Linked DNA regions of Homo sapiens. The protein of the gene in region 2 purifies or fractionates together with the protein of the main gene of each other region. This does not show direct contact. Each region holds a gene or a part of one and is shown on either strand. Other genes may lie near its edges.

What was found.
Region 1: the proteins of PRXL2B (region 2) and NUCB1 purify together in Homo sapiens (affinity purification with mass spectrometry; 3 studies listed by BioGRID and IntAct, with this or other methods). This does not show direct contact.
Region 3: the proteins of PRXL2B (region 2) and BCAT1 purify together in Homo sapiens (affinity purification with mass spectrometry; 2 studies listed by BioGRID and IntAct, with this or other methods). This does not show direct contact.

The regions. Positions count from the first base shown.
Region 1 is NC_000019.10:48,903,239-48,910,341, reverse strand, and holds part of NUCB1 (nucleobindin-1 precursor), read right to left. Parts: intron 5,996-7,103; coding exon 5,888-5,995; intron 4,590-5,887; coding exon 4,457-4,589; intron 1-4,456. UniProt on the Homo sapiens protein: Major calcium-binding protein of the Golgi which may have a role in calcium homeostasis. Acts as a non-receptor guanine nucleotide exchange factor which binds to and activates alpha subunits of guanine nucleotide-binding proteins (G proteins).
Region 2 is NC_000001.11:2,581,803-2,589,776, forward strand, and holds the start of PRXL2B (prostamide/prostaglandin F synthase), read left to right. Parts: upstream 1-4,974; 5' UTR 4,975-4,993; coding exon of another isoform or gene 4,994-5,083; coding exon 5,084-5,146; intron 5,147-5,288; coding exon 5,289-5,493; intron 5,494-5,938; coding exon 5,939-5,990; intron 5,991-6,533; coding exon of another isoform or gene 6,534-6,587; coding exon 6,588-6,651; intron 6,652-6,727; coding exon of another isoform or gene 6,728-6,747; coding exon 6,748-6,823; intron 6,824-7,119; coding exon 7,120-7,238; intron 7,239-7,607; coding exon 7,608-7,625; coding exon of another isoform or gene 7,626-7,677; 3' UTR 7,678-7,974. UniProt on the Homo sapiens protein: Catalyzes the reduction of prostaglandin-ethanolamide H(2) (prostamide H(2)) to prostamide F(2alpha) with NADPH as proton donor. Also able to reduce prostaglandin H(2) to prostaglandin F(2alpha).
Region 3 is NC_000012.12:24,876,057-24,883,159, forward strand, and holds part of BCAT1 (branched-chain-amino-acid aminotransferase, cytosolic), read right to left. Parts: intron 5,356-7,103; coding exon 5,245-5,355; intron 2,594-5,244; coding exon 2,474-2,593; intron 899-2,473; coding exon of another isoform or gene 872-898; intron 1-871.

The DNA.
Region 1 (7,103 bases), on a different chromosome or scaffold from region 2:
CACTTTGGGAGGCCAAGGGGGGCGGATCACAAGATCAAGAGATTGAGACCATCCTGGCCAACATGGTGAAACCCCATCTCTAATAAAAACATAAAAAATTAGCTGGGCATGGTGGTGCGCACCTGTAGCCCCAGCTACTTGGGAGGCTGAGGCAGGGGAATCACTGGAACCTGGGAGGCGGAGGTTGCAGTGAGCCGAGATCACGCCACTGCACCAGCCTGGTGACAGAGTGAGACTCCGTCTGAAAAATAAATAAATAAAATAAATACATACATACAAACAAAAGAAAAACATCAAAATTTTTGATAAAGCATCAACCAATCTTAGGGGTTAAATTGCACGCTCCTAAGTTTCTATGTTGAAGTCCTAAGCCCCAGTACCTCAGAATGTGACCTGATTTGGAGACTAGGTCTTTACAGAGGGAATCAGGTTAAGATGAGGTCATTACTGTGGGCCCTAATCCAACATGATTGGTGACCTTATAAAAGGCAGAAATTTATGACTGGGCACAGTGGCTCATGCCTGTAATCCCAGCACTTTGGGAGACTGAGGTGGGAGGATCACTTGGGCTCAGGCATTCGAGACCAGCGTGGGCAACATGGTGAAACCCCATCTCTACAAAAAATATAAAAATTAGCTGTGTGCAGTGGTGTGTGCCTGTAGTCCCAGCTGCTCAGGAGGCTAAGGCAGGAGAATCACTTGAGCGTGGGAGGGGGAGGATGCAGTGAGCCGAGATCGCACCACTGCACTCTAGCCTGGAGGATAGAAGTGAAACCCTGTCTCAAAATAATAATAGGCCGGGCGCGGTGGCTCACACCTGTAATCCTAGCACTTTGGGAGGCCAAGGCGGGTGGATCACCTGAGGTCAGGAATTCGAAACCAGCCTGCCCAACATGGCAAAACTCCATCTGTACTAAAAATACAAAATTATCCAGGCGTGGTGGCGCGTGCTTGTAATCCCAGCTACTTAGGAGTCTGAGGCAGGAGAATCGCTTGAACCTGGGAGGCAGAGGTTGCAGTGAGCTGAGATCGCGCCACCGCACTCCAGCCTGGGCAACGAGAGCAAAACTCTGTCTTGGAAAAAAAAAAAAATAATAATAATAATAATTAATAAAAAATAATAATGGAAGGAGAAATTTGGGCCAGGCACACAGAGAGGAAAGATGGTGTGAAAATGCAGTGAGAAGACGGCCATCTGCAAGCCAAGGAGAGGGGCCTGGTACAGATCCTCCCTCATAGCCCCAGAAGGAACCAACCCTGCCAATACTTTCACTTTGGACTCTGACTGCAGGCCATGAGACAGTCAAGTTCTGTTGCTGAAGCACCTGGTCAGTGGTACTTGGTTACAGCGGCCTCAGCAAACAAGTGCAGCCTCCCTCATATGGGAGTTTCCAAGTAGTCAGGAAGGGGTAGGGTTTCCAGGCAGGAAAGGACAGCGCACACGCTGCCAACACACACTTACCGCACGCATGTCTCCCGAGGCTTCTAGGGGCCCAGGCCTGCGCTGTGCAATGCTGGACCCAAAATGAATCAGCCTGGCCCTGGCCTCCAGTGGCCCTTGGTTAGGTGGGGAGAAAGACACACACACACACACACACACACACACACACACACACACACCCCTTGGTCAAGTGGGCAGAAAGACACACACACACACACACACACACACACACACACACACACACACACACACGGGCAGCTAGAATTTGGGAGACCTAGGCTGCAGTGGAGGCAGCTCCGGCCCTGGCTGAGCCCAGAGGAGTGACAGGTGTGCAGGACACAGGTACAAACTGAATCTCAAATTCATTATTTGTGCCAGGGACGTGTGTTGAGCCGCTATTCCAGGCTGACCCAGCGCCGGCCGCTATGGACACAGCAGGAATCAAATGATGACAGAATTCTGACTCTTGGAGGCCAGGCGGGGTGGCTCATGCCTGTAATCTCAGCAATTTGGGAGGCTGAGGCGGGTGGATCACCTGAGGTCAGGAGTTTGAGACCAGCCTGGCCAACATGGTGAAACCCTGTCTCTACTAAAGATACAAAATTAGCCAGGTATGGTGGCGGGCACCTGTAATCCCAGATACTCAGGAGGCTGAGGCAGGAGAATCGCTTGAACCTGGGAGGCAGAGGTTGCAGTGAGCCGAGATCGCGCCACTGCACTCCAGCCTGGGCGACAGAGTGAGACTCTGTCTCAAAAACAACAACAACCAAAAGAGTTCTGCCTCTTGGAGCACCCAGTCTAGAGAGACAGAGAACAGGCGACCAAGGGATGAACAAAGGAATACCAAGGACACAAATAACACAGAGGCTCCTTCACACAGGACAGCCGGGGCGGTGACACCCTGAGGAGGTGACATTCCAGGGGAGATGGAAGGTCCATGGACCAGGCAAAGAGCCCTGAGAAAGAATGTCACGGGAGAGCGGGGCGAACGGACAAAGGTCCCAAGGCTGCACGCCAGCAATTTCTAAAAATGCTGACGCAAGAAGGTCAGGGTGCATACGGGAAGGGCAGGGTTGGGCGGGTGTGGCCAAGGTCCACCCAGGCTCCGAGCAGACAAGAGGAACATGAATGCGGGCCTGAGGGCACTGGGGTGCCGGGGGCAGGCTCTGGGCAGAGGAGGGACGGGAAGAGCCTGGGTGTTGTGGCAGCTGGATACTGGTGCCCTAAAAGATATCCACATCCTGATCCCCGGAACCTGTGAATGCGTGACCTTTCCGGGCTAAGGGGTCCTGGCGGATGGGATTACATTAAAGACCTTAAGATGGGGGCCAAGGCTGGTGGCTCAGGCCTGTAATCCCAGCACTTTGGAAGGCCGAGACAGGAGGATCACTTGAAGTCAGGAGTTCAAGACCAGCCTGGCCAACATGGCAAAATCAAGTATCTACTAAAAATACAAAATTAGCCAGGTGTGGTGGCACACACCTGTAATCCCAGCTACTTGGGAGGCTGAGGCAGGAGAATTGCTTGAACCCAGGAGGCGGAGGTTGCAGTGAGCCGAGATCGCGCCACTGTAGTGCAGCCTGGGAGACAGAGCAAGATTCTGTCTCACCAAAAAAAAAAAAAAAAAAGGCCAGGCGCGGTGGCTCACACCTGTAATCCCAGCACTTTGGGAGGCCGAGGTGGGCGGATCACGAGGTTAGAGATCAAGACCATCCTGGCTAATACAGTGAAATTCCGTCTCTACTAAAAATACAAAAAATTAGCTGGGCATGGTGGCGGGCGCCTGTAGTCCCAGCTACTTGGGAGGCTGAGGCACAAGAATGGCGTGAATCCAGGAGGCGGAGCTTGCAGTGAGCCGAGATTGCACCACTGCACTCCAGCCTGGGTGACAGAGCGAGACTCTGTCTCAAAAAAAAAAAAAGAAAGATATTAGCTGAGCAAGGAAAAACAGTGTGACCTGATAAATCTCCCGATTTTATCGCTGTACTTATGCAAGAGTATCACACTGAAATGTGTAAGGGTGATGAGATGGTGACTGTGGTGAAGTCCCAAACGTGAGTGACAAAGCAAATGGAGCAAATGTTAACTAGAGAAGCCAGGTCAGGGGTGTTTGGGAGTTTTCTGTACTACTCTTACAACTTTTCTAAAAGTTTGAAGTTCTTTCAACTTTTTTTTTTTGAGATGGGATCTTGTTCTGTCGCCCAGGCTGGAGTACAGTGGCGCAGTCATGGCTCACTATAGCCTTGACATCCCAGGCTCAACGATCCTCCCACCTCAGCTTCCTAAGGAGGTGGGACCACAGGCATGCATTACCATGCCCAGCTTATTTTTTAATATTTTTTATAGAGACAGGGGTCTTGCTATGTTGCCCAGGCTGGTTTTGAACTTCTGGGCTCGAGTGATTCTCCTGCCTCAAAAAGTGTTGGAATTGCAGGCGTGAGCCACTGCACCCGGCCTCTACCAGAATTTTAAATGACAATTTTTTTTTTTTTTTTTTGAGTCAGAGTTTCACTCTGTTGTCCAGGCTGGAGTGCAATGGTGCGATCTCGGCTCACTACAACCTCCGCCTCCCGGGTTCAACCAATTCTCCTGCCTTAGCCTCCTGAGCAGCTAGGATTACAGGCGTGCACCACCATGCCCGGCTAATTTAGTATTTTTAGCAGATATGGGGTTTCACCATGTTGGCCAGATAGTCTCCAATTCCCGACCTCAGGTGACCTGCTTGCCTCAGCCTCCCAAAGTACTGGGATTACAGCCGTGGGCCACTGTGCCCAGCCCATGATAAAGATTTTTAAAAACAACAAATGGAAACAGAATATAAACAAACAACATTGTAATGTTAATATTAAATCATGCTGGGAGGAACACTGGGGCAATCTCCCACGCACATTTCAGCACATTTCGCAGCGGGGAGGGAGGCCTCACCTGCCTAGCACACAACCACCTGGAGGCCGGGAGTGAGGCCACCCTTCCCCACCCCTCCCTGCCTGTCCCTCCCGCCCTGCCCCTGCTCACTGGGATCCTGCTCGGCGTCCATCTTGGCCTTGAGCAGCATCCGCAGCCGTGACACCTCCTGTCGCTTGAGCTCATCCAGCTTGGTGCGGACGTGGTGGCTGACAAAGTCCAGCTCTCGGCTCAGCTTCCCGCTCTGACAGGAGAGGAGACCCTGGTCAGCCTGGGGGCCTGCTCTCTGTCTTCTCTGGAAGCTTCTTATAAGCTTTCTCATGCCCCAGTCTTATACTGCCCCTTCCCTGCTTATAGTCCCCCAGCTCCTCAGAGTCTCCAGGAAGGACAGCTCCCAGCCCGTCAGCCTGGCATTCAAGGCCCTGCCCACCTGTGCTGCCCCATCTCCTGTCATTCATCAAGCCACATGTTTAGGGGCCAGGTGCGGTGGGTCACGCCTGTAATCCCAGCACTTTGGGAGGCTGAGGTGGGAGGATCTCAAGATCAGCCTGGGCAACATGGCAAGTCCCTGTCTCTAGAAACAATACAAAATTAGCCGTGCATGGTGGTGAGACCCAGGTCCATGAGAAGGACAGATCCTGATACGAGGGTTCAGTGTCCTACTCAGTGAAATGGGGACAATGATGGTGCTCCTAGAGGCCTGATATGGGAGTTCATGGTGATGTAAGGGACACCAGCACCTCCCTTATTTTGAATTCTTCCTCTGTAGAAGGCACCATAGGAGCATTCTGTTGACGCAGCCCTCCCACAACACTTGCTAAGGAGTGTCACCATGCTCTTCCAAACCCTTTACACATCTTCCTTTGGAAAATCCAAACCCCAAAATCCTTCCCTTGGAAAATCCAAATCCGAACTGTGCAGCAGGTTCTATGATGTCTCCCATTTTACAGGTGGGGAAACTGAGGCACGGTGAGGGGAGGCCCCATAGCTGGTAAGCGGCGGAGCTGCGACTGAAAGCCTGCCCACGGGACTCTGCACTAAACACGTATTCTGTGTTCCCCAAAGCTCTTCCCAGCTTGTGACCCCAAGAAGCAACTTCTCCCTGAGTCTTACTTTGGTGATTTTCAAATACAGGCACAGCTGGAGCCATGTGGCCCCTTTGAAGAAACCAGTATGGTCAGGCATGGTGGCTCATGCCTGTAATCCCAACACTTTGGGAAGCCGAGATGGGAGGATCACGAGGTCAGGAGTTCGAGACCAGCCTGGCCAACATGGTGAAACCCCGTCTCTACTAAAAATACAAAAATTAGTCAGGCATGGTGGTGTACGCCTGTAATCCCAGCTACTTGGGAGGTTGAGGCAGGAGAACTGCTTGAACCTGCGGGGTGGAGGTGCAGTGAGCTGAGATCGCACCATCGCACTCCAGCCTGGGTGACAGAGCAAGACTCCGTCTCAAAAAAAAAAAAAAAGAAACCAGTCCTCCCCTGAACTCTGCCCTCCCAGCACGTACCCCTCCCACAGCCCCCACTCCCCCAGCCGCACCTTGATGTCCTCCGCATTGGCAGCCTGCAGCTTCTCTCGGAAATGCCCATCCGTCTCCAGTACATCGATGACCTCCTGGAGGTACCGGTGGTAGTACAGGCCTGTGTCCTGAGGCAACAAGGACAGACATAGCAGCCCCTGCTCCCATCCCCATCCCCACCCTCACTCCTGTTACTGCTATGGCCTGCTCCCTGGGGCAGCTGACAAGGGACTCAGTTTTTACCTTTTCCCACATATGCAGCAAAGATGAAATGAAAATCACATCAGTGAACACCCAGCCCAATACTGCCCAGAGTGGGTGCTCAGAGTGGACATGACTTGTTGGGAAGCTGTGAATCATACTTTTATCCATCCATCCAACCATCCATCCATCCATGCATCCACCCATTCATCCATGCATCCACCCACCCATCCATCCATACATCCCACCCACCCATCCATACATACATCCTACCCACCCATCTATCCACCCATCATCCATCCATCCATCCACCCATCCATCCACTCATCCATCCATCCACCCACCCACCCATCCATCCATCCATCCACCCATCCATCCATCCACCCACCCATCCATCCATCCATCCATCCATCCACTCATCCATCCATCCATCCACTCATCCACCTGCCCATCCATCCACCCACCTATCCATCCATCCATCCATCTATCCATCCATCCATCCACTCATCCACCCACCCATCCATCCACCCGCCCATCCATCCACTCATCCATCCATCCACCCACCCATCCATCCATCCACCCACCCATCCATCCATCCACTCATCCACCCACCCATCCATCCACCCGCCCATCCATCCAACCACCCGTCCATCCATCCATCCACTCATCCACCCACCCATCCATCCACCCGCCCATCCATCCACTCATCCATCCATCCACCCACCCATCGATCCATCCACCCACCCATCCATCCATCCACTCATCCACCCACCCATCCATCCACCCGCCCATCCATCCACCCGCCCATCCATCCAACCACCCATCCATCCATCCATCCACTCATCCACCCACCCATCCATCCACCCGCCCATCCATCCAACTGCCCATCCATCTACCCACCCGCCCATGCATGCATTCATTCATTCAACAAACATTCACCAGGCCCCTATCATATGCCAGGCACTGTGAACAACACAGACAAAAGTCCCAGGCCTCCTAGTCCCACCCCCGTCATGCGTAGCTGGGTGGGACTTT
Region 2 (7,974 bases):
CTCCGACTCAACAAGACGCATTAGTTAAAAGATCTAATATATGCGTATGGGGCTTCCCAGAATAAGAGGAAGGAAGGAAGGAAAGAATGAGACATCATAAGATAGTGTTAAAAAAAAAAGAATTCCCAGCCGGGCACGCTGGCTCACGCCTGTAATCTCAGCACTTTGGAAGGCCATGGCGGGTGGATCACCTGAAGTCAGGAGTTCAAGACCAGCCTGACCAACATGGTGAAACCTTGTCTCTACTAAAATACAAAAGTTAGCTGGGCATGGGTGGTGGGCACCCGTAATCTCAGCTACTCCAGAGGCTGAGGCAGGAGAATCGCTTGAACCCAAGAGGCAGAGGTTGCAGCGAGCTGAGATCGAGCCGTTGCACTCCAGCCTGGGCAACAAGAGCAAAACTGCATCTCAAAACAAACAAACAAACAAATAAAATAAAAGAATTCCCAAACTGATTAAAGATACCAACCCACAGACTCAAGAAGCCTAGTAGGACTTCTGCTGCTGGCCACGATGCTGCAACTTGTCAATGTAAAATAAACAACAGAGAGACTGGCTCTCCCAAATAAAGTTTACTGGGGGATGGCAGGGGATTGCAATCTGGGATATGCATGCTGAGGGGGACCGTAGGTGTATCTTTCTTTTAGGGGTGGGAAGAGGAAGTCTACACAGATTGTTTTGGAATAAACCTCCCTGGGTACAGGAGCTTATTGCAGGGTTGGTGATTACTCATGGGTAACATGATTGTTGCGGGGGAGATGTCTTCATAGGAGCAGCTGATCTGGAATGTTGTGTGCTGTCGGAGTCCCTGTAACAGTTCTCATCATAGGCACCCGAGCATGAGGGACCTTCCGTTGAGGCCTCCCAGCTCCGTTTTGCTTGGGTCCTGACATAAGTGACTCTGCCTTAGTATTGACAATTTTCACACAGTGGAGCCAGTTTCCCCCATTTGTGCCCCCTCCCCCAGTTCATATGCTGAAACCGAATCCCTAATGTGATGACATTATGAGGTGGGGCTTCGGCATGTGCTTAGGTGGGTAGTGAGGGTGGAGCCCTCGGGAATGGGTTAGTGCTTTTATTTATGTATTTTATTTTATTTTGAGACGAAGTCTCACTCTGTCGCCTAGGCTGGGAGGCAGTGGCATGATCTTGGCTCATTGCAACCTCTGCCTCCCAAGTTCAAGTGATTCTCCTGCCTCAGCCTCCCGGGTAGCTGGGATTACAGGCATGCTCCACCACGTCCAGCTAATTTTTGTATCTTTAGTAGAGATAAGGTTTCACCATGTTAGCCAGGCTGGTCTCGAACTCCTGACTACAGGTGATCCGCCCACCTCGGCCTCCCAAAGTGCTGGGATTACAGACGTGAGCCAAAACACCCGGCCAAAGTTAGTGCCTTTAAAAAGGAGGCCCCCCAGAGCCCCCTCATGCCTTCCACCCTGTGAGGACACAGCATGAAGAAGTGATCTAGGAACCAGGAAGGGGTCCTCGCCAGACCTTGAATATGCCGGCGCTTTGATCTTGGACCTCCAGCCTCCAGAAATGTGAGAAATCAATTTCTGTTCTTTAGAAGCCACCCCATCTATGACTAAGACACCCTCCCACCTTCATGCTACTGAGTGGACAAGCTTACATGAAATGACTGTTTTCACATATGTGGCACCAGGCAGCCCAGGGATGCCGGTGAAATCTCTGGGTAAGTCTCTTTGGCCTCTGGTACTGGCAGCTTCTCCTGTTAAGAGGGCAGTCCTCCACGAGTGTCTCGTGCCCCCCACCTCTCACAGGGTGTGCCAGGAATGCAGGCCCTGAGTACCCTCCCCCATTTCTCAGGGTGGTTTGCCCTGAGAGTCCTCTAGGGACAAAGAGCAGCTTGCTCACTGCTTGCTGCAGAAACAGCTGACTCCCCCAGTGCAGGGCTCCTCAGTGGCCACGCAAACCTACTGACTGTGCAGTGCCCACCCAGGCCTACCCACATGGCACCCGTGGAATTTGGGGGCAAGGGGATAAGACCAAACACACAGGTGAGCACCTGCCTGCCACGCCATGAATGAAAAAGTCCTTTGTCTCTGACCCCGGAGTTTCACGTCTTCTGTCAGCATCCCTGCTGCGGTAACGGGCCAGCTCTTCCTTTGTAAGGAAAGCTAAAACCCAGTCCCAGAGCTGGCACCACCTGGAGGAGGAAGTGCTCTTCCCTGCCCCTCCTTGGCCATGTGACTTGCTCTGGCCAGTGACATGGGAGTGCAAGCGACACATCCCAGCTGTGCATGGCCGCTGGGAGAGTGTGGCATGGTTTCTCCATCTCTCCTCCATGTCCTCCCTTGTCAGGAGAACGGCATGTTCCAGAGAGCCACAGCTTGCTCAGCCTGGACCCCAGAACGAAGGAGGCATCAGAAGCTGAGCCACCCGTGGCCGACAAGAAACCTGAGTGGGAGGGGAAACTTGGTTGCTGTGATCGACCCAGGCTTGCGAGTTGTTTTGGCAACACAGCCTAGCAAGAGCCGACCAATATGTCATTGATGAAAGAAAGTCAACAGGCGTGTAGAAGGAGCTGTCTACTGAGCATGTCTGCACTTTTCTGAATTATGTTGCACTTGAGTAAAAAGTAAGCAAGCCTGTCTATTTACTTTAAATGATGTGTGCCAGATATGTACAGTATGCAGAGTTAAGAAGGTGCCACCCCAAAATAGGCTGCTCTGGCATAGTCACTATTAGGAATTAAAGGCAGTTAAAACAATAACAGGTGCAAAAAGATCATTCTGATCTCTCTTGTGTTTCTTAAAAGCAGAAGATGAAATTCCCAGGTGAAAGATGCTCTCCCTACACTAGAAAGCTCTGATCCTCAAGGATGAGAAGCTGAGACCCAGCAAATGCTGTACAGTCCCTGATAAAATGCCTCTCACCTTTTCAGCCCCCCACATCATCTAGCTGCTTCCTCAAACCTCACTGTTCTCTGTCCAACTCAGCACACGACTGAGTCTGCTTCACTGGGTCTTCACTTCCTTAGGAGGGCTCCTGAGCCACATCCAACTTTAATCAAATACACTGGCATGATGATCTGTCTTATCTTGATTTAACTCTTGGGCCCAGCCAGGACCTCAAAAGGATGGAGGTGGAGTTTTTCAGCCCCTACATATGCAAACACACACATAGCATGTATCTGAGCGGCCACATGGGCTGGCCCTGCTATTTTCTTATGGCTTCTCAGCCTCCCAGCCACCTTCTGCTCTGCATCACTGGAGCTGGGAGGCTGCAAGCTCCTTTCCCACTCTCCTCTGCCCGTTGGCTTCCAGTGAGGCTCCTGCAGCGATGGCGTTGGTGGGAGATGCCAGGCGAGGAATTGATCTCGCATTCTCGTTTCTGGGAACGTCTCTGAAAATGGCTGAATCCCGTCTGGGATCCCAGCTCCCAAGGAGGCGGCAGCTTGCTCACTGCTTGCACAGCCCCAGACGGCAGAGGGGCCCTCTCCTGCACAGCCTGAGACAGTGGAGGGGCCCCCTCCTGCACAGCCCCAGAAGATAGAGGGGCCCCCTCCTGCACAGCCCGAGACAGTAGAGGGGCCCCCTCCTGCACAGCCTGAGACGGTGGGGGGGGGCCCTTCCTGCCCAGCCCCAGATGGTAGAGGGGCCCCCTCCTGCACAACTCCAGAGGGTAGAGGGCCCCTCCTGCACAGCCCGAGACGGTAGAGGGGTAGCCCTGGTCTCTGGGGGCTGCACTCCTGGGCTCTGGAGCTGCCACAGCTCCTCCCTCCTAGTGCTTCCCCTTCCTTGTTTTGCTTTTTGCCCTTTCTGACATAGTGACGACTTCCGTTTCGCAGTCTGGACCTTCACCACCCCAGGGCGAGGGCACAGGCGAAGCAGCAGCACCCCCCCGGGGCCTCTCTTTATTTGGAATACAGTGTGGGGGCTCCCCCTTCCTTCTCCAGCCCGCCCAGGCCCCTGGAGCTGTCCTGGGGCCTGGGGAGTGAGGACCCGTGCCAGCAGCACAGACTCTGCCAGGCCGGGCCCGCTCAGGTGGGAGCCCAGGCCGGGTGAAGCTGTGACCCGGCCCTCACCCCAACTCGGTGACAAAAGCTATCACAGGGCTGCAGTGGGGGAGGAACAGGACGCATCTGCCAGGCACCTGACCCGCAGTGCACTTCTGGGAGCTGTGCTTATCTCCCCGGGGTCTATTTCGCCCCAAGGTTTGGCGGGTTAAAAGCTGATATGCAACCGGCACGACATGAACAGTATTTCATGATTAAAGACATCGCGTCCATGTATAATTGAGATGCTGCCGCATTTGCGGGGATTTTCAAGCGAAAACCAGGCCACGTGGAAAGGCTAAGCCCTCGCACCCCCCCGCCCCCCACTGCTGGGACCCCCGCCCCGCGGGAGACCCCGGCCCGCGGTCCCCTATGCCCGCGACCCCTGCGCTCACCCTCTCCCCTCAACCCTGAGTCCAGCCCAGTCTCGCGCGAGGCCGCAGGGAGACCCCCGCCGCTCCCTGGACCACCCCTGGGCCCACCGTACCCAGCCGCTCCCCGGCGCCCCCCGGGACGACCCCGAGCCGGCTGCCCGCCTCCCGCCGCATTCCGCACAGGCGCACCGCGCACCGAGGGCCGCACCGCCCAGCTCCGCCTGCTGCGCCAATGGCCGACGGGGTCCAAGTCGGCGGCCCAACGGAGAGGCGGGGCTAGGGGCGGGACCAGGACGCGGGACAGCAACTGTCCCGCAAGGCCCGGATTGAGGAGGCGGGAGGGACCGAAGCAGGCGGACCCAGGATTTGGCGCCGCGATCTCGAGGCTTGGCCTGGAGTAGGAGGGGAAACAAGGCGGGACTAGGGGCGAATCCGAGGGGGCGGAGCAGGGCTCGGGGTGCGGTCGGGGGCGTGGCCGGGGCGCGCTGCGGCCATCTTGGGGGCGGGCCCGGGGCGGAGACGAGCCCGAAGGGGCGGGGCCTCGGCGGCAGCAAGAAAGGCGGGACCGGGGCATCTCGGGGCGGGGCTTGGGGCTGGATCTATGAGCCGGGAGCGGGGATCCAGGAGCGAGGAGCCGGGAGCGGGGAACAGGGAGTCGGGGAGCCGGGAACCAGGGCTGGCAGCGGCCGCCATGAGCACGGTGGACCTTGCTCGCGTGGGCGCGTGCATCCTGAAGCATGCGGTGACCGGGGAGGTGAGGCCGGGTGGACGCAGGGCGGTGGGCGCGTCCCTGGCTCCTTGCCCGGGCGTCCTGGCAGCGATGGGGTGGTGGGGGCCGCGGGGCCTGGGCGGGGCTGGGGGCAACGGGGCGCGCCCATGACCCAGCCGCCCGGCAGGCCGTGGAGCTGCGGAGCCTGTGGCGGGAGCACGCGTGCGTGGTGGCCGGGCTGCGGCGCTTCGGGTGCGTGGTGTGCCGCTGGATCGCCCAGGACCTCAGCAGCCTTGCTGGGCTCCTGGACCAACACGGCGTGCGCCTGGTGGGCGTAGGGCCCGAGGCCCTGGGTCTGCAGGAGTTCCTGGACGGCGACTACTTCGCGGGAGGTGCGTCCTGTTCCCCGCCGCGGCGGCGCACATACCCTTCCCTAAGCTCAGGGCGTTCGGGGCCCTTTCCTGCCCAACCCCGGCCCTTCTGTCTGCTGGAGCGGCCTTGATATGCCCACGGGTCAGCGTCCCTCATCTCTCCCTGCCTCCCCGCCCCGCAGCTGGTGGCTGGGTGGTGCCCTGCACAGACCTGGGCCCAGCAGCAGAGTCTGGACGAGCTCTGCCCCGCCGGCTCCACCTGTTGCCTCTGGGACTCAGCCCCTCTTCTGAGGGGAGGGGGGACACTCAGCCCCGTTTTACCCCTCCCTGCCCTGCGGGGGTGGGCTGAGCACGGAGGGTGGGCAGAGGAACAGAGGGTCGGAAGGAGGAGGGCGATTCTTTGTGGTGAGTGGGTTGGGGGCTGGTTCTGCGCCTGGGGCACACACATGTGGCTTCCGCTTTCCAGAGCTCTACCTGGATGAGAGCAAGCAGCTTTACAAGGAGCTAGGCTTCAAGCGGTGAGTGGGGGCGGGAACCCTTGGGTAGCGTGGGGTGGGGGGCCCAGGGGTTCCCACCGCTCCCTGCCACCTCCTCTCCCTGCTGCCCTCTGTGGTGCTGTCCACTCGGGCCTTCCTGGGCAAGGCGGCTCTGGTGGCACTGTTGACCAGCCCTTCTGCCAGGCCTTCTCTTGGGTGCTGGGTGACTGTAATGAGCCACCTCGTCCGGGGCTTACTCTCGGTGTCCAGACCACCTCGTGGGGTGGAGCCTCGTGGCCCATCAGGGGCCATCCTAGCTTTCTGGTGTCTGTGCCACAGGCTGCTTCCTTTGCTTGGCAGTTGCCAGCTGAGCCAGATCCCTGGGCACACCCAGCCTGGGGCCCCATCCATGCTCCCTGCACCCTCTGTGGACCCTCGGCTAGCAGCCACTGGGCTCGGTGTCCAACCTGCCGGTGGGCTGGGCTGGCTACTGATCTGGTCGCCTGTGCCATCTCTGAGCCCTGGTGAGGCGGGTGGGTGGGGTGGGGCCTGACCTAGGAACTGGTCTCATGGACACTGGAGCAGGCTCTGGACCCAGGCTTCTCCGGAGTTTGGCCAAGCGACCTGGTGTCTTCGCAGGTACAACAGCCTGAGCATCCTCCCAGCAGCTCTGGGGAAGCCCGTGCGTGATGTGGCTGCCAAGGTGTGTGCGGGTCAAGGGTGTACAGGCCGGGGGGTGGTGGGAGCTCCCAGGAGCCTTTCTTCTAGGATTGACTCAGGCTGTACCCACTCCTGACAGGCCAAGGCTGTTGGCATCCAGGGGAACTTGTCTGGGGACCTGCTGCAGAGCGGAGGGCTGCTGGTGGTCAGCAAAGGTGGGTCGAGGGAGGGGCCTCGGCCACTGCCTCAAGGAGGGCCTTGCTGAACTTGGTGGCCCAGCCCAGGCCCTCTCTCTGGCTTGTCAGTCTCATCACAGCCCCTCCGCCGCAATGTGGCCTGGTTCTGCGTGTCTGCTGGGCTGAGTGGGGCTGTGGCAGAACAGCTCACTCATCTGGGTAGCCGGGTGGGGGATATGGCTGGCCAGGGCTGCCCTACCCTCCCTCCTCCTGGTATGTGGCTGTGAGGTGCAGGCGGCCTCCGGGGTGCCGTGACTGCCTGCCCGCTGCTACAGGTGGTGATAAAGTGCTCCTGCATTTCGTCCAGAAGTCCCCAGGCGACTACGTCCCCAAGGAGCACATCCTGCAGGTCCTGGGCATCTCTGCGGAGGTCTGTGCCAGCGACCCGCCTCAGGTGAGCTGGGCCTTGGGGGCGCTGCCTGCCAGCCCACGCCCTGCCCCTAGGTCCCCTGGGAGGAGCACTCGGCTTGGCTGGGAGCTGAGCCACAGCGCTGTGGGCATCATGCCAATTGTGCCCTGGGATATGGATGCCACTGTGACCCCACTTGCAGAGTGGGGCAGGCTGAGAGGGGCCGAAGGGCAGCATGGCTGGATGGACAGGCACCTTGGGACTGTCCTCAGAGGTGGGGGCGACACATGGGGTGGCGGGCAGAGAGGCGTGTCCTCTCAGCCTTGGGAGGGCTGGGGATTGTCCAAGGGGGCCCTCCAGGCATTTGTCTGATCCAGTGTCCAGCGGCCCCATGGGACCCTGCTGTCCCCACAGTGTGACAGAGAGGTGTGAGGGAGGCGAAGGCCCTGGCCTCCGAGGATCTGGGTGGCGTCTGCTGCCCTAGGTGTGCTGGAAGTCCACTTGGAAGAACTGTTCCGGAGGCGCTGGGTCGGGATGCCGAACCTCTCCTGATCCGCCGGCAGCAACGAGCCATTAAAACTGCAGTTCCTGACCACGCACTGCTTCGCAGGCTCCGAGCCCTGCATCCTCCACAGCCCCCGCCTTGCTCACTGTTGGGCCCTCAGGGCGGGCAGGGTGGCTGTGAGTCCCAGGTGTCATCTTCCTGCTCTGCGACTTTCTCTGGAGACCTTGGGCCTTTGGCCTGTGGGGCACTGGGGATGGTAACCTCACTGCCCCGTCA
Region 3 (7,103 bases), on a different chromosome or scaffold from region 2:
ATAAAGTATTGGTTATCTCACATAATTTATTGAATACTGTACTAAAAGCAAAAAAACAGAATGGTATGTGTACTCAAAGTAAGTTTCTACTAAACTCATATTGTTTTCAAACATCATACAGTCAAAAACTCCTAAGTAGGACCATCGTAAGTTGGAGTGCAGCTGTATTAGAAAACTAGATCAAGAGGAAGAGGAGGGAGATGTAAAAAAAAAAAAAAAAAAGAAAGAAAAGAAAAATGAAAACTAGATCAATATATTTCATGAACAGTGAAACAAAAATTCTTAAAATATTAGCAAACTGAATATAGCAAGATAAAAAAATGGATTATTCACAATGACCAAGTAGGATTTAGCTTAGGAAAATAAGGTTGATTTAACATCCAAAAATAAATTGATATAATTCATTCATTAATAATGTAATAAAGTACAAAACCACATAATCATGTCAAGAGATTCAAAAAAAGCAATTGACAAAATCCAACATCCATTCATGACAAAAACTCTCAACAAACCAGGAATAGGAGTATCAGATCTTAGACTGAAAAAGTATCTCAGAATAACTGGAAGGTAGTGCTTTGAGATCAGTAACAATGTTTCAACCAACTTTAAAAAGTACTCCTTCCTATCATAAAGTTAAAAATAATATTAAAAGAAAACCAAACACTGCATGTTCTCTTATAAGTGGGAGCTGAACAATGAGAACACATGGGCACATGCAGGGAGCAGCACATACTAGGGTCTGTCGGAAGGGGCGGGAGGAGGAAGAGCATCAGGAAGAATAGCTAATGGATGCTGGGCTTAATACCTAGGTGATGGGTTGATTTGTACAGCAAACCACCATGGCTTACATTTACCTATATAACACACCTACCTGCACATGTACCCTGGAACTTAAAAGCTGAAAAAAAAAAATTCAATTATCTTAAAATGTCAAAAAACTTATGGAAGTAGATGACTTTTTAAAATTGTTCCTATTCTTTAAAACTTGTCAGAGAGACTGCAATTCACGAAATTCATTATCTAGATCCTTACACGGCTTTCGAAAGGTATCAAGGATACCAAAGAAAACACTTCGGTATTTATTCCATGGCCCTATATATCTCTCTACCTTTTGCATTCATACAGCCTAGTAGAAAACCTGGTAACCCCGCAACACTTAGTAGAGAACAGAATGGCTAGGCTATAGCAAAAGCGCTCTATCTCACACTCTCTTATTCTAAATATCTCCATATGTTCCCTATCTCTTTACCTGCCAGCCACATTCAATCTCCTTCCATCAATTATCCCTCAATATCACACTCTCAAGCCACAGCTGCCTAGCAGATACCAGAGACAGGTGACAGGGTCTTCATATAAACATACTCGTCCGCTCAAAAGGCCTTGGCCCCTCCAGGCATGCCCAATCCATGCCTTTATTCACAAGGGCACCCAACCAAGAGACTGTGACCCACCAGGAAATCATAAGGTCATGTTATTTAAACCTACCATCCCAGCTCTTCAATTTCCTTCCTTAACTCCCACTGTGAACTTTATTTTCACCATTTTTCTATGTGGGAAGGGGAACCTCCATTCTCACTCCATGCCAAGTAATCCCAAGACCTCATGAAAATGAAAATTAGCAGCTCTCCCTCCCCTAAATTTTAAAACCATTTCTACCTCAGAGAAGTACTGCCACAATGGGAGGCACTGCACTTGTAAACTTAGAAAATAATGACTAGTCTTAATTGGGCAAGGCAAACAGCACTGCATTTACTCATTTATGTGCTGTCTATGGCTGCTTTAGTACTAAAATGGCAGAGTTTAAGAATCCTCTCCGGTCAGGTGAAGTGGCTCATGCCTGTAATCCCAGGACTTTGGGAGGCCAAGGTGGGAGGATTGCTAGAGGCCAGGAGTTTGAGACCAGCCAGGACAACAGAGTGAGACATCATCTCTACAAAAAATTTAAAAATTAGCTAGGCATGGTAGCACATGCCTGTAGTACTAGCTACTTGGGAAGCTGAGGCAGGAGGATCACTTGAGCCCAGGAGGTCAAAGCTGCAGTCAGCCGTGATTGCATCACTGCACCCCAGCCTAAGCGACAACGTGGGCAAAAAAAAAAAACCAGAGAGAGACCTCAAAAAAAAAAAATCATTTCCTACCTAAGGTCACAGAGATATTTTGTATTTCTTAATAAACGTCTTAGTATTTTGTCACATTTAAGTATATAATCGAATTATAATTGATTTTGGGGTATGGTAAGAGGTAGGGATCTAATTTCTTATTAGAAACTATATGGCCACAAAGCCAAAAAATATTTACTGATTGGCGCTTCACAGAAAATGTTTGCTACCTCTAATCTTGACAATCAGAAGGAAGAAGTCATTAATGATGCTACTGGGGGGCTACTGCAAACTATATGCTAGAAGTTTCAAACAACAATAAACAATAATAACTTGCCCAGCAAAGTACCCCAAAATAAAGAGTCAGTTTGCACCTCAGTTCCAATGAATGTAGGACGAATATACAGACTAGCAGATGTTGAATATGGGACCCATTCTTGATCCAATTTCACAAGCTGTTGAATACACTCTAAGAGCTCTTCTTTGTCAAATACCTGAAAGAATGAAAAACATAATAAATGACAGAATTTTCTCACAATGTGGCAATAATAAATGATCCTCACTGAAGCATTTAAACTGTTAAAAAATTAATAATCCCAACACAAAAAAATAAGAAATGTTTGAGGTGATGGATATCCTAATTATCCTAATTTTTATTTATTTCTTTCTTATTTGTCCTAATCATTACACATTATATGCATGCATGAAAACATCAGTGTACCTCATAAATATGTATAATTTATGGTACCAATAAAAAAAATTTTAAAGTAATAATAAAACCAAACAATTTTTTCTGATTTTCCCCCCAAAAATTGTGATGGGATGACGAGCTATCCACATGTGAAAGATAAGATTAGATCCCTACATCTTACCATACCCCCCAATCAATTCTAATTAGATGATATACTTAAATGTGACAAAATACTAAGACTTTATTTAAAAAGTACAAAATATCTCTGTGACCTTAAGGTAGGAAAGGATTCTTAAGTAGGAGATGTAAAACACAAATCATGAAGGAAAAAAATGGATAAAATGTGACTATTTGAAACTTAAAGACTTCCGTTCTTCAAAAGATGTAAAGCAACAAACTGGGTGAAGTTATTGGTAGCATGATCAACAAAGAATTTTAACTGGTATATATATTTGGATATCCCCAAAGTCAATGAAGAGATAGATAACCCAATAGGAAAATGGGCAAAAGCAAAGAGCACTTTATTTCTAAAGAAAAAAAAATTACATCTACTAGATGGGTGATACTTCATAAAATAATTTAGTCTCTGCTCACTTGCAAAGTAGAGAAACATACTTTCAGAGATGTGATGGGTCACCTAAGGTAGAAATGAGTCAGTCATAAGCATCTGAGTAAAGCTCATGAAGTCAGAATTTGTCTATTTAAATATTGACCTGTAACAGCAATAATAATGTAGTAATGTTATAGAAATTGGGACTGCCAATCATATAGGTGAACCCTGTAGCACCTGCCTCAGCCCCTGGTATTGCTGTCTAGAGACAGAATTCAGTGAGAAGAGAACTTGACCAGGAATAAAAACACCTGGATCTAATTTCTTGCCCTGTCCTTTTGCTCTTTGTGACTTCAGACAAGTCATTTAATCTCTCTGGACTCAAGTTTTCTTCTCTGTACAAAGGCACTAATAAACTGTACAACAAATAATCTTCTTAGCAACGCCTTACTGCTGTGATTACACAGATAAGGAATGTGAAACTACATAACACAGTTTGGTAGCAAAATTGATGTCTAACAAATATTACTTCCCTTTCCTTCCAGCCCCATTTTAAAGACTTTTCCCCAGTGATCTAGCTGTAATGAGAAGAAGAGCGAAACTATGCCCTAGTCCAAAGAATTTACCTTAATTTCCCCTCTGCTACTATATTATGGCCTCCAAAGGAGATGGGTGAAATGCGGGTTACAAAAATAGGCAGAGGAATGAAGAACACTTGGATTTAGCCGTCCTCAGGCTTCCTGAATGCATAGGTTGGGCTAAATCCCTGAAGCTGGGCACGGTGGCTCATGCCTGTAATCCCAGAACTTTGGGAGGCTGAGGCAGGCAGATCACTTGAGGCCAGAAGTTCAAGTCCAGCCTGGCTAACATGGTGAAATCATGTCTCCACTAAAAATAATTTTTAAAAAAATTAAGCTGGGCATGGCTGCGTGCACTTGTAATCCCAGATACTAAGGAGGCTGAGGCACAAGAATCACTTGAACCCCGGAGGTGGAGGTTGTAGTGAGCCAAGATTGTGCCACTGCACTATAGCTTGGGTGACAGAGTGAGACTCTCTCTCAAAAAAAAAATCTAACCCATCTTACAATGATTTCTGCTCCATAAGAAACATTGTGACAGCCACGATTCAATGGCCATGAGAAACCATTTTGATATCTTTTTATCTCAAAACATTACTTAAGATAAAATATCAAAATAATTAAGTTACTATATCTTGCTAGCATCTAAAGCAATTAGGCAAAATATCCGCAAAATACCTGTGCTGCACACCATATTTTCCATTTTCAATATTAATTTCATGTGGTCTTCAAATATTATTTTAGGTTGAGATACATTTTTCTTCCTTACTCTTTCATCTCTCACTTGCATATGAATCCCCCACAGACACTGATTTTAAAAAATTGTGGAATTGCCAAATGATATTATTTTCTTGGGTTTTTTGTTTTTTGTTTTTTTTTTTTACAGAGTCTCACTTTGCGGCTTAGGCTGGAGGGCAGTGATGTGATTATCTTGGCTCACTGCAGCCTCCACCTGCCAGGTTCAAGCAATTCTCATGCCTCAGCCACACCGATGGGACCACAGGCATGTGCCACCAAACCCGGCTAATTTTTGTATTTTTTGCAGAGATGGTGTTTCACCATGTTGGCCAGGCTTGTCTCCAATTCCTGGTTTCAAGTGATCCACCCACCTCAGTCTCCCAGAGTGCTGGGATTATAGGAGTGAACCACCGTGCCCGGCCATTTTCTTGTATTTTTACCTAACTAAAGTAGATCAGAAATAATGTTAATGTTCATATGGTTTGTACTGAATATTTATCTAACTATTCAGAAATTATTTATTTGGTGGTCAACACCGTGACCCGTTACATTAAAAGAAACACAAAAGAAACTCCTACACTTACATACCGGCAGAGTTGCCCTCACAGCAGAGCGATACATTCTATCCATGTTGAGGTTTGGCTGAAACAGTCGAATTTTATTATCTACTCCTCGAAATGCCTTCAATCCTTCAAATAACTGGAGATCAAAGAGAAAAAATCTTAGAGGGTAACCAAAAGAAAACAACCCGTGTTCAAGAGACTGACTTTCCTATGGGCGTTCATCTTATTCATCCCATAAAGCTGTTGACATTGACCTCAACTTGAGATCATTAAATCCAGGAAAGCTAACAGTTGACAGGACTGGTAAAAACAATGGTTGAGGTGGAGGAAAGTTATTTTATTATCAGAATTTGGTAGGAATTCCGAGTTCTCCTCTGCTTAGCAGGAGCCACACTGCTGAATAACACATTTAGGTGTTATTTAAGGGAGCAGGAAGAAAACATCTAGAATCACACAGCACAGGTTAATTCCCTAGGCAATGGAGATCGAAACCAAAGGCCTTGTGGCACCGTGGCCCCCAAAGAGTACCCCCATATCCTTTCATGTAATCTGGTTCATTTGAATGCTGGATAGTAGATAATCCAGATGTGACCAGAGCTGGTTCAGTCCCTAAATCACAGAAACCAGGCAGCTCAAGACCATACTATGTTAAGCCACGTCACCTCCCTCAATCAAAGTGCTGTCCTGAACAAACCACTGATCAGGGATTTGAAAAGACTTCAGTAGATACATACTGATAAATACAGAGAAAGACAAAAATCAATAATTTTAGTGGGAAAATTTAACACAGCTTCTCTAAGTAATTTATAGAACAAACAGGCTAAACCTTAGTAAAGATATGCAAGATATGAACAACAGGAAGAACAAACTTCCCTAACTGATACAGAGAACTCTTACACAGACCAGCTGTAGAATTCACATATTTTCCAAACACAAGATAAGCCAGAAATCAATACCAAAAGTTTGACTGGACACCATCCATATTTTGGAAAATAAATCCACCACTAACTAAACCATAGGTCACAGAAGAAAAATGGAAATTAGAAAATAAGTTAAACTGAACGATAATGAAAAGTAAGGCCTTTAAAGATGTATACCCTAAAAACTTACATGGGAAAAAAAGAAATACAAATCATGTATAATTAAAAAGCATAAAATTAGATGTTGTATTTAAGTGCAAATATATTATTAGTTTATTAAATATAACAGTACTAAAGCTTCGGTTAAAATATAAGTTTGTTAGATTGGACTCAGCTGACAATATCTGAATCAAAAAGACAGAAAAAGATATATCATGCAAATACTTTATTTTTTATTATTTATTTTTTTTTTTTGAGACAGAGTTGTTTTTCTCTGTCACCCAGGCTGAATGAAGTTCAGTGGCAAGATCTTGGCTCACTGCAACCTCTACCCCCTGGGTTCAAGCAATCCTCCCACCTCAGCCTCCAGAGTAGCTGGGACTACAGGCGCGCACCACCACGCCCAAGTTAATTTTTTGTATTTTTTGTAGAGACGAGGTTTTGCCATGTTGCCTAGGCTGGTCTCGAACTCCTGGGCTCAAGTGATGTGCCTGCCTCGGCCTCCCAAAGTGCTGGGATTACAGGCATGAGCCACTGCACCTGGCCTGCAAATACTTTCTAAAATAAAACTGGCAAGCTTCCATTACTATTTATAAAACAAAAGAATTTAAGCCAAGAAGCACTACTGAAGATAAAAAAGGCAACTTCAAGGCTGGGTGTGATGGCTCACGTCTGTAATCCCAACACGTTGGGAGGCCAAGGCTGTTGGATCACTTGAGGTCAGGAGTTCGAGACCAGCCTGGACAACATGGTGAAACCCATCTCTACCAAAAATATAAAAATGAGCCAGGCATGGTAGCATGTG